3 linked regions of the Homo sapiens genome follow. The protein of the gene in region 1 purifies or fractionates together with the protein of each later gene. This does not show direct contact. Each region holds a gene or a part of one and is shown in the gene's direction. Other genes may lie near its edges. The genes, in order: TMEM33, LBR and ABCC1.

Region 1 (3,652 bases):
TCCTGTCTTTCTGTGCAAGCATATTAAATACTTGTTTAGAAAAGTAGATTTGTTGCTTTTTTTCTAACCATAGAAGTAAAACAGGACACAAAAAGGTAGAATAGTAGTTGCATCTTTATACAGGATGAGTCAGCACATAAGGTGAAAATTGTGAATGGTTAAAATTACCCTTGATGATCCTTCATATCACTTATAAATGTCAGTACAGTATACATGATTTTGTGTATACTAGCCTGTATAATATATGTGATATCTACAGTATGTAATAATACTTTGTAGGCAGTGAGCACAGTTAAGACATAGGCAAAGCCCACATGGTTTTGGGCACAAACATGCAACATAAGTTGATGATAGGAGCGAGGGCAGGGAGTGGCAGGAGATGGGGCAGAAAATTAGATTGAGACTAGATTGTGGAGGGTATTGGGTGTGACACCGAGTACTTGGGCTTTAGTCGGAAGGCATAAAAGAGTCATAGTTCAGTGTATTGATCCAACTGGGAAGTAACATTTATTGAGCATCTTCCATATTGCATTTAAATTTCACCACAACTCAGAATTATTTTACAGAAGAGGAAATCTCTGAGGGACAATATGTACATTTAAGGAAATAGTGGGTGAATAAATATAACTGTCCATGTTATATATTTTAAAATATATAAAAAACACTGTCCATGTAGTATATTTTTTCTTGTTCTGTTTTAAAAAACTAGTTGAAATTGCCTAAGTTAAATGTGAAAATGATGTGACTCTAAAATATATATATATAATTTTTAAAATTTAATCTGAGGTTTTAGAGATAGCCATTTATTAAATACCTTTGTTAAATGAGTGTTTCCACCCATAAAAGATGTAGGTGTTGTTTGAGAATTTCATTGTATTTTGTGTTTTCTCTACAATGCATTCTAGTTATTCTTTTACTTCAAATTCTAATGGCTATGGTAGATTCCTTCATGAGTATTTGTTTAGCATTAGAGGCATACTTCAGAAATGTTGTGGGAGTGGTTCCAGACTACCACAATAAAGTGAATATCACAAAGCTGTCAGATGAATTTTTTGGTTTTCCAGTGCATACAGAAGTTATGTTTACACTCTACTGTAGTCTGCTAAGTGCGCAATAGCATTACCATCAGCAGTAAGGCTGTTCTGCTTTCTTATCATTCATCCGTTCACAGAAATGGGCTTTTAATTTTCTTCAGGAACTTTTCCTTTGCATTCACAGCTTGGCTATTTGGCACAAGAGGTCTAGCTTTTGGCCTGTCTTAGCTTTAGCCATGCTTTTTTCACTAAGCTTAATCATTTCTAGTTTTCATCTAAAGTAACAGACATGGGAGGCCTCCTTTCACCTGAGCACTTAGAGGCCATTACAGGGTTATTAATTGGCCTAATTTCAGTATTGTGTCTCAAAGAATAGGTAGGTCTGAGGAGAGGGAAAGAGACCAATCAGGAATGGCCTTCATGAACTGCTTCATCTTATATTTGTGCAGTTTGTGGTGCCCCAAAACAGTTACAATAGTAACACCAAAGAGATCACCGTAACAGAACAGATCACAGATCACCATAATAGATTAATAATGAAAACATTTGAAATAGTGGAAGAATTGGCAAAGTGTGACGCAGAGACATGAAGTGAGCACATGCTGTTGGAAAGTGGCACTGATAGTCTTGCTGTATGCGGTGTTGCAACAAACCTTCAATTTGTAAAAAATGAAATATCTATGGAGTACAATAAAATGAGGTAAGCCTGTGTATTGCTTTTTCCTTGTGTTTCTCAAAGAAAACTATTTTGTCTTGCAGGACCTTATTTAATGAACTGAGGATTGTTGTTGAACACATAATAATGAAACCTGCTTGCCCACTGTTTGTGAGAAGACTTTGTCTCCAGAGCATTGCCTTTATAAGCAGATTGGCACCAACAGTTCCATAGTTTAACATCTAGTTAAGCTACAAATATAGTATAAGCATTATTAGCAGCTGGTACTTCTGCTAGGGGTTGTAAATTCCAGGTGTTACACTGACCTCAATCCAATTTACATAATTTACATAAATGCATCTCGGTGGAAAAATAATCATTTTCTTGGCATGTTAAATCAAGCTTAAAAAGTTTTGAGAAAATTTTACTGCGCTGTGTTGCTAATGGTTAAAGAAGTCTGTATCTAGTGATAAATATACCAGTTTTTTTAAAAAGATGCTGTTGTGCCTATATCATGAAGTACATTAATTTCTCATGTAAAAAAAATAGCTCTAAAATTTGTTTCAACCTAATTGGTAACCTGAGTTTATATCTGGCATGAATTCATTATGGTGATACACATATGTGAATTCAGTACATTTTGAGACAGTATTCTACCATTCAGTAATTTTGGTTAATGATTTTAACACTTCTCAGTGTATTTAATTTCAAATTGTTTTTTTAATTGGTTTTATGCTGCTTTGTTAGGACAGATGTGTTTTGAATGTACCATTATAAGAAGAATTCTATGTATCTTAAACTATGATCTTCTAAAATTTTATTTCCGTAAGTACTTCTGTGGCCTTGAGTATTTTTTAAAAGGCTCAACTGTAAGCCTCTTAGCCAGTTGGATAAATATTTGGGGTCACCTAGCCATTGAAAGCAGAAAGCAGTAGTGACACAGCTTTCCCTTCAAAGAGCCATTGAGAAACATTTCTCAAACAGGAAATCCTTCTTTTACTAATGTGGACATATAGATTATTCGTATTATAGTTTGTAGAACTACCTAGTTCAGAATCTTGACTGCCAGTTTTCTTGGTTTCTTAGGCTTGAATTTTCATAGACAATTGCAACAGTTTAGATGCCTTTTGAAAGGAATGTAATGAAGATTCAGCATCTGACTATATGTGTGTCTATCCTGAAATAATAATGGAGAGTATACTGTAGATTACATGTTTACCCATCAAATCTGACTTAAAAGGTTAAATGGAAGGTTTTATAGGTAAGGTAATTGATTGGGAATGGGGTAGGGGGAGGAGTTGTGGGGGAATAATGTGCATTTCAGTCTCAACGCATAGATAAATTTAGGGGAATTGGATGTATTATTCAACTTTGATTTGGGTTGTAAAATGTGTTAAATCCTGTTCATTGAACTCCCATCAACTCTTATAAAATTCATGCTGATCTTCATTACCGTTGCATGATTGGAAATGTTTAAAACATTGTACAGTTTTAGTATAGAGAAATGTAATGGTTTTTGTGACCAGTTTCTGTCTGCATGTAATTTGGATTTCTCAAATACATTCATTAGTAATTTATCAGTAACATTAGTTTTATTTTTGTTCATCTCCTTATCTATAAAAAGGGGATATTCTTAGGATAAATACATGAAAAATTATACTTGATAGCTTAACTATAATCAGCTATTTTTGTATTTTTGTAATATTTGTCCACTAAGCTGGAGAAGCAGCCTCATACAGTTGATTTTGTGTATGTGGCTAGTCTTATTGTCACTATGTAAGTAATCCAATGGTTTTAGAAACTAAACTTTCTAGAGCAATAAAATGACTATAATGTTAAGTAAACATAATGTTGATTTCTAATTATGTTTTAAAAAATGAAGTCTTGAATTATATCAAGAAATTTTGGCAGCTGAAGTCATGTTTATTTTGAAGCTGTTAGTTTTTTCCTATAATTTAAAAAG
Region 2 (3,652 bases), on another chromosome or scaffold:
GTATCCTGGGCCAGAGGCGATCTGGCTCATGCTAACCAAATCACCAGGGAGTAATGCACTTTTATTAATTTACATGAGAAGCGAAGCTGTCAGTTCACCATGTTGCCAGGCAGCTTAATTTCTTCTGTGGAAAATGCACATGAAATGCCAGATTATGAACAGAAATTAGATTGGTCCATGTGGAATTGAAACAAAAAGAGTTGGTGATCTTATTCCTTCAGCAAGCATATTTTGAACACTTCTCTCCATGGCGGGCACTGTGCTAGGTACTGGGGTGGCAAAGGTGAAAACACACAGCCTCTGTCTTTTAGAGGCTTTTAGTGTAGTGAAGAGTGACTAGACAAGTACAGTAACCCAATTACTGCAGCCTACTGGTGGGTGGTGATATCTGAGAAGTGCCCAGGTCTGAGCAGCAGGTCAGGAGGGCAGCAGAGGGTGTAGGGCCTATGTGGAGGTTGGAGGAGGGGTTGTCAGCAGAGGGGAGGGCCTGGGCATGGGGGCATGGGAGATGCTTTAGAGATCTGTTATCTCCAGAGCATGAGCGAGAGGCTGGCGTGACGGGAGAATGTGACAGCAGAAAGACCTAGCAGGCCAGGGGAACCAGATCTCTCTCCCCTTTAACAAAAAAATGTTGATTGTGGACCCGCCCATAGCACTTTTTACATTTGCCTGTAAACTAGTACTTTATTTGAATACTTTAAACACAGAAGCTCCTTCTCCCTTTCCCCGTCTGTATCCTTATAGGAAGCGTTGTTGACGACCATGGACATCATCCACGATGGATTTGGATTCATGCTGGCTTTTGGAGACTTGGTGTGGGTTCCCTTTATTTACAGCTTCCAAGCCTTTTATTTAGTCAGTCATCCAAATGAAGTGTCTTGGCCAATGGCTTCTCTAATTATTGTTCTGAAACGTGAGTATTAATTTTAGTCTCAGTTTAATTTATTAAATATTATGTACTGAGGCTTTTATGCCCTGCTGTCTACATACTTGAAACATGCCATTTTGAATGGCCAGCATTAGCTCAGTTTGAAGCCATTTATCATGAGTAATAAAAAATCTGCATTTTGCAAAGAGAATGGATGGTTCGTACTTGGGTTCTCAGTAGTACTTGAAACAGATTATTTTAAACCATCTTGCTTTTAAATTTAATAAATTTAAGTTGTTTTAATTCGTTTTGGTAACCATACGTCTTTTCTCTTGAGTGCCTGCTTTTTCTGGTAGGCATCTTATAAAGTAAGAAGATTTGTCTTGCCTTCATAGAGCTCACATTCTAACAGGAGAAATAAGACATTCCTGCCTTGCTGTGAGGTGTGTGAGTGAGCACTAAGAGGGGCTTAGATGACGGGTGTTAAAGATAGAGAGAACTTCTCTCTGGGGAGCGTTAGTGTGAACTTATCGGAGGATATGGTGTTCGATTGGAGTTTTAGAGGGGAAAATGGGATGGGGAGATCGAAAAGTCAGGCACTGGGAACAGCTCAGCAAGGGTGTGTGGTGGGGAAGTGTGAGATGAGGTTGGGAAAGACTGAGAAGTCCAGTTTGGCTGCAGCTGCGGTCCACCAGGGTCAGTCATGGATTTTACTTCAGGATGAATTTTCATTGTTCTTACACTGTTCACTAAACACTTATACTAGAGGTTGGGCAGGGAAAATTAGCAGTGAACTGCAAATACAGATAGTTTTGCTACACAAGTTAGTATCTGTGGTAGAAGAAGTTCAAACCATTGGTTAAAATTAAGATTTAGTTTCACCAGTGGTTTGGATGTCCATGTCATCCATTTTATTATTCAAGACAGTGTATTTTATAGTTCAGCTAAAAATGGGGAATGTCTTAGTTTGTTTTGTGCTGCTCGAACAGAATAGCTGAGACTAGGTAATTTGTCATGAAATTTATTTGGCTCATGGTTCTGGAGGCCAGGAAGTCAAAGAGCATGGTGCTGGAATCTGGCAAGACCCCTTCTGCTGCAGCATCCCAGGGTGGAAGGTGGAAGGACAAGAGAGAGTGAGGGAGGGCAAGAGAGAGTGAGGAAGAGCAAGAGGGGCTGAACATACTTTTATAACAAACCCACTCGAGATACTGAGCCCACTCCTGTGATAGCCACATTAATCTGTCCATGAGGGCAGAACCCTCATGACCTAATCATCTCTTAAAGGTGCTACCTCTCCACACTGTTGCATTGAGGATTACGTTTCCAACACGTGAACTTTGGAGAACACATTCAAACCAAAGCAGGAAGTAAAGTTATTCTCTTACTAGTTTATTGAGGATCGACTATATAATAGTTAAATGTCAGTGATAGATTGATTTTTGACATTCTGAAATTTGGATAAAATTAGGAACTTATAGACTTAAAGTGGGATTCAGCATGTATTTAAAGTGCAGGATGTTTTGGTGCTGATTCTAAGCTAGTGTTTGATAATAAAATGTTTGTGCCATGGCCAGTAGGTATAACTAACAGATGATATAGCTTGTAATTTTGATTACACTGAACTCTAGTATTGATTTTATTGTAATGTAGGCTATCTTAGATTTTATCTCTTTCATGGATGTAACTATATTTGTTTTGCCTTCAGAGCGTTTCCTAGGTGGATGATTAAAGTAGTGTGATAGATTTCGGACGGGTTACCATCTTTTTACATAGTGGGATTTAGAGGTTTTGAGTTGTTCTTAAGAATCAGGCCAGGTGCGGTGGCTCATGCCTGTAATCCCAGCACTTTGGGAGGCTGAAGCAGGAGGATCTCTTGAGCCTAGGAGTCTGCTTTGGAAATTTCCTCAGAGCATAGAAATCATTTTTAAGAGAAATTACAGATGCTATTAAGCATTAGAGTATAACTAAGTTATTAACATAGGAAAATATTTTAAAATTGCAGTTTGTGGTTATGTAATCTTCCGAGGTGCAAATTCTCAGAAAAATGCATTCCGGAAAAATCCCAGTGATCCAAAGCTTGCACGTAAGTATTGATTTATGTTTATATTATATATATTACATGAAGGTTTTATTTTTCTTTTTGTCTCGACATCATTAAAAATGTACTTTTATTTTTATATAGATTTAAAAACCATTCATACTTCAACGGGAAAAAATCTTCTAGTTTCTGGATGGTGGGGCTTTGTTCGCCACCCCAATTACTTGGGTGATCTCATCATGGCCTTGGCGTGGTCCCTCCCATGTGGTAAGCATTTCAGAAGAGTGCTAGTTTGACCCTTTTAGCCGCCAGAAAGATGTGTGTGTGTGTCCTTTGTGTGGGACAGTGTGGCCAAGGTGGGTGTGAGTCTTTTTGTCGCCCTTTTCTACTGTGAGGTTGGCCTCTGTAGAAGCTCCTCTGGCTTCTGAGGGGAATTGGGAATTCACAGAGCCTGAAGTTTTACTTTAAGCCTAAAAGCACTATTTTAAGTTTTCAGCTGTGCCTGATAGCTTTTTTCTAAGTAGAATATATAGAAATTAATTCAGCTTCTTAATTCATGATTCAGTGTACATAGATTGGGAAAAACTTTGGTTTTTAAGAAGAGAAAGAGATTCTGTTTTTCTTTTTGTGTGTCTGGCCTCGTGGGGAGCTGGGAAAGCAGGGGAGCAGGGAGAGCTGTGGGAGCTGGAGGTGCTTGGGGAGCTGGGGTGTCAGGGGGAGCTGGAGGTACTGGTGGAGCCAGGGGA
Region 3 (3,752 bases), on another chromosome or scaffold:
GTGCAGCTGTTGTGTGCATGTGTTATGGAAACCCACATCAGGCAGGAGATTAAGGAGGAGAGGAGAAAAGAAAGGCATCGCTGGTATCACAGTGAAATTTACACTCTGCGGCCTCGCCCTAGCTCCTCTGTCTCTACCTGTCTGCCTATGAAACAGTTCAAAACTAATATGGCGCAATGGATGGTATTATAGACTTCCCACCTCCCTGGCCAGACTTCTTGGGTTCAAAGTTTGGCTTAATCACTTACCATCTAAATAATCCCTGACAATGTACTCTGTCTTTCTGGGCCTTAGTGGCCTCATCTGCAAAATGGGGATAATACTACTTCTTACCTCATGGGGTTGTGAGGATTGCACAAGTTAATTTGTGTAAATTGCTAAGAACACAGCCTTAGGAAGCCTTGTCACTGTGAATGCATATTAATTTTTTTTATTATTATTTTTTGAGACAGAGTCTTGCTCTGTTGCCCAGGCTGGAGTGCAGTGGTGTGATCTAAGCTCATTTCAACCTCCGCCTCCCAGGTTCAAGTGATTCTCCTGTTTCAGCTTCTCAAGTAGCTGGGACTACAGGTGCCCGCCACCATGCCCGGCTAATTTTTGTGTTTTTAGTAGAGACAGGGTTTTGCTATGTTGGCTAGGCTGGTCTTGAACTCCTGACCTTATGTGATCGGCCCGCCTCGGCTTCCCAAAGTGCTTGATTACAAGCACGAGCCACCATGCCTGGCCTACGATTATCATGTCTCCAGGCTTCAGTTTCCTTACCTCTGAGGTGAGGATCAATAACCTGGTTATTTCTAAGTGATGCTTAAAGAGGTTGAGAAGAAGCAAAGGCGCTCTGCACACAGGTGAGGTCAACAGCTGTTAGTGATGGAGACTGGCGCCGTCTGGGTCATCAGTGCTCCGGAATCAGGCTGCTCACGGGTTTGAATCTCACTTCCACTTTCACTCCTTATTAACTGTGTGACCTCGGGCAAGTCACTTCGCCTTTCTGAACCTCAGTTTCCCCATCTGTAAAAGGTAGGTGAATAACAGTATTCACCTCCTTCTGTGTGACTCAGCTTTGGAGTCAGCGGACCGGGTTCAAATCCCAGCCCTGCAAGTGATTAGCCAGGTGACCCTGGGCAGAGGGAATCACTCAACCTCTCTGCACCTGGGTTTCTTCCTTCATGAACGTGGAGACTTTACAGGATGAAATGAGGGCACAGTTAAGGCGCCCGGTACACTCCAGGCAGGTAGGGGGCTCCGTTCACGTTATTTTCCCCTGGTGACGGATACTGTCCTTAAACAGCATTTGAAAAGTGGTCGCAGGGTGTGTGGCCCCAAAGATCCCAGGCGCTTCCGGAAGGCGAGCCAACGCTCCCCAGGCCCGTCCGCGAGCGGGTGGGCCTAAGCCTTGGAGGATCTGGGGTGGGGGTGGCGCGGGGTCCAGGCCCGGGGCGCCGAGAGGTGGCTGGTCCGGCTGCCCACGCCGAGACGCGCGAGGTGAGCGGGCGCCGGGGCGGGGCGGGGTGGGGCGGGGCCGCCGCATCCCCGTGACGCGCGGGCCAACCAGGCGGCGTTGCGGCCCCGGCCCCGGCTCCCTGCGCCGCCGCCGCCGCCGCCGCCAGCGCTAGCGCCAGCAGCCGGGCCCGATCACCCGCCGCCCGGTGCCCGCCGCCGCCCGCGCCAGCAACCGGGCCCGATCACCCGCCGCCCGGTGCCCGCCGCCGCCCGCGCCACCGGCATGGCGCTCCGGGGCTTCTGCAGCGCCGATGGCTCCGACCCGCTCTGGGTACGTGCCGGGGGCCGCGTGAGGCCGGCGGGACGGAGGGAGGCCGGCGGGGAGGGAAAGCACCGGGCCCGCAGCCGCCCGGGGCACCCCGCTCCCCGCTCTGCTGCCGGCCTCGGGGGCCCGGGACCCTCACGTCGCCCGCGGCCCAGCCCCTTTCGGGGGTGCAAGGCATGGGGGAAACTTGGGTGACTCAGTTCCTGCGGAGCAGAGCGTGGGGGGCCGCGTGCCCAGCCCTGGGGTTTTGGAGGGTCGGGTCGGGTCAGAGCCGCCGTGAGGAGGCCTTCCTGTTTTGGGGTTCCCGTCTGTAAAAACAACCTTCCAGGGAAGGGGACGCTAGAGATGGGGGGCGGGAAGAGGGGTGTCTCTCTGCTTCTGTTTTCCCATCTTTTTTGTGGTTAGGGTCCCCCCTTTTCACGAAAAATACTCCGTGACCAACGGGGTGAGCTGGGGAGGGGCTTAGATTGTAGAAAGGGACTTTCATTGTCTCCCCAAAGTTGTCGTACAAGCCACATTACTCTTCTGTGGTTACCTAGCTTTGTTTTTTTTGTTCTTTCTACTTAGATACTGCGGGGGAAGTTTGGGGGAACCAGGGAAGAAGGGGGATGTCCACCCTTGATGTGCCCTACCTGACCCTCGGCTCGGGGCAGACTTGGGGTGCAGCTGAGGACGCCCAGGACCCTGGTAGCTGTGGTCCTGCCCTCCCTTCCCTGCAACACGTGGAGCTCCTCTCTGGGGATGCCCCTTAGATTTAACCCCGGCAAGTTTTCTTCTGTAACGTGGCCTGCGGAGCCTGACTGGGTGTCTGGAGTCCACTTGCTGTGGTTTAAGCCCCAGTCTTTTGGGCTTCAGCTTCTCCGTAATGCGATTTGCCTCTTTGTTCCAGGAAGGCAGGCACTTCTGTCTCGTGCTGTCTTGATTGTTGGTGAACGCAGTAGGCAAATCTGGACACGACTGTTTCTCTCTCCTCTTTTGTTTAGGAATCAGGAGAAACAGCCTTGGTTCTTAGGAGCTGGTGATCAGCTTCCAAAAATACTTTCTTGTCCTGTTTTGCCGGCCTTTCCTCGAGGGTTGCATTTGGAGTGTTGAAAAGTCATCCTCCAGGGCCCCATTGGAGGGTTTGGTTTTGTTTGTTTGTTTTTTTTAGTAGGGTATCATTGTGTTTAATAACCTACCACACTTTGATATATCTCCCATTTTAAGCCAGTGGGGTTGGAGAGTAACCCCAGGGGTGGAAATAGAACACAGACTTTGCCTTGAGGGTCTGGGGGTGATTGGAGCCTCTTTGCAGATGGACTTTCTTTAGCAGGGGAAAACCTGTGGCTTCCTTGTTGCCAGGTGTAGTAACAGCAAGATTATTTTTTGCAAAGATTCACATGGTGATCTGGGTTTGTGTTGCTGTGAATTCCAGAATATTCTCTTGTTTATTTTCTTCTGAATTGAGGAGGGGGCAAAACAGGGTGAACATCCATGAGGTTTTGTATCAGGACGTATTTTATTGATGGCAATTGGTAGTTGATGGCTAATGAGTATGTTTGGGGTGCGCTTTGTTTATCTTAAGAAACTCATTCACGAAGTCCAGTTGTAATATTTTTTAAAATTTTTATTTTCTTTTTTCTTTTTATTTTTTCCTTCGTTAAGGACTTTCTGCCACAGAAATTGCCAGGTGGTTGGGTTTTGCTTGGGGGTAATTGTAGCTGATCTCTGCCTCTGGTAGGTACCCCATCCCCGTGTTTGACCTTGCGTATTTCTGCTGTCTGGATTCCAAGACTTGTTGGAGGTGCCTTGGAACCAGAATTTGAGAGGAGGCAACTGGGGCCTGAGTGGGAAAATTGAAATATAATTAACTGAAAGCTAGAAAGTAGGTAGTTGTTGCTTTTTTCTTTTCTTTTTTTTTTCTTTTTCTTTTTTGAGACAGAGTCTTGCTCTGTCACCCAGGCTGGAGTGCAGTGGCACGATCTCAGCTTACTGCAATCTCTGCCTC

What was found.
Region 2: the proteins of TMEM33 (region 1) and LBR purify together in Homo sapiens (affinity purification with western blotting, with the first as the bait; one study listed by BioGRID). This does not show direct contact.
Region 3: the proteins of TMEM33 (region 1) and ABCC1 fractionate together in Homo sapiens (co-fractionation; one large-scale study listed by BioGRID). This does not show direct contact.

What each region holds. Positions count from the first base shown.
Region 1 is NC_000004.12:41,952,277-41,955,928, forward strand, and holds part of TMEM33 (transmembrane protein 33), read left to right. Parts: intron 1-1,793; coding exon 1,794-1,923; 3' UTR 1,924-3,652. UniProt on the Homo sapiens protein: Acts as a regulator of the tubular endoplasmic reticulum (ER) network by modulating intracellular calcium homeostasis. Mechanistically, stimulates PKD2 calcium-dependent activity. Suppresses the RTN3/4-induced formation of the ER tubules.
Region 2 is NC_000001.11:225,403,925-225,407,576, reverse strand, and holds part of LBR (delta(14)-sterol reductase LBR), read left to right. Parts: intron 1-744; coding exon 745-913; intron 914-2,870; coding exon 2,871-2,951; intron 2,952-3,050; coding exon 3,051-3,173; intron 3,174-3,652. UniProt on the Homo sapiens protein: Catalyzes the reduction of the C14-unsaturated bond of lanosterol, as part of the metabolic pathway leading to cholesterol biosynthesis.
Region 3 is NC_000016.10:15,948,029-15,951,780, forward strand, and holds the start of ABCC1 (multidrug resistance-associated protein 1), read left to right. Parts: upstream 1-1,587; 5' UTR 1,588-1,723; coding exon 1,724-1,771; intron 1,772-3,752.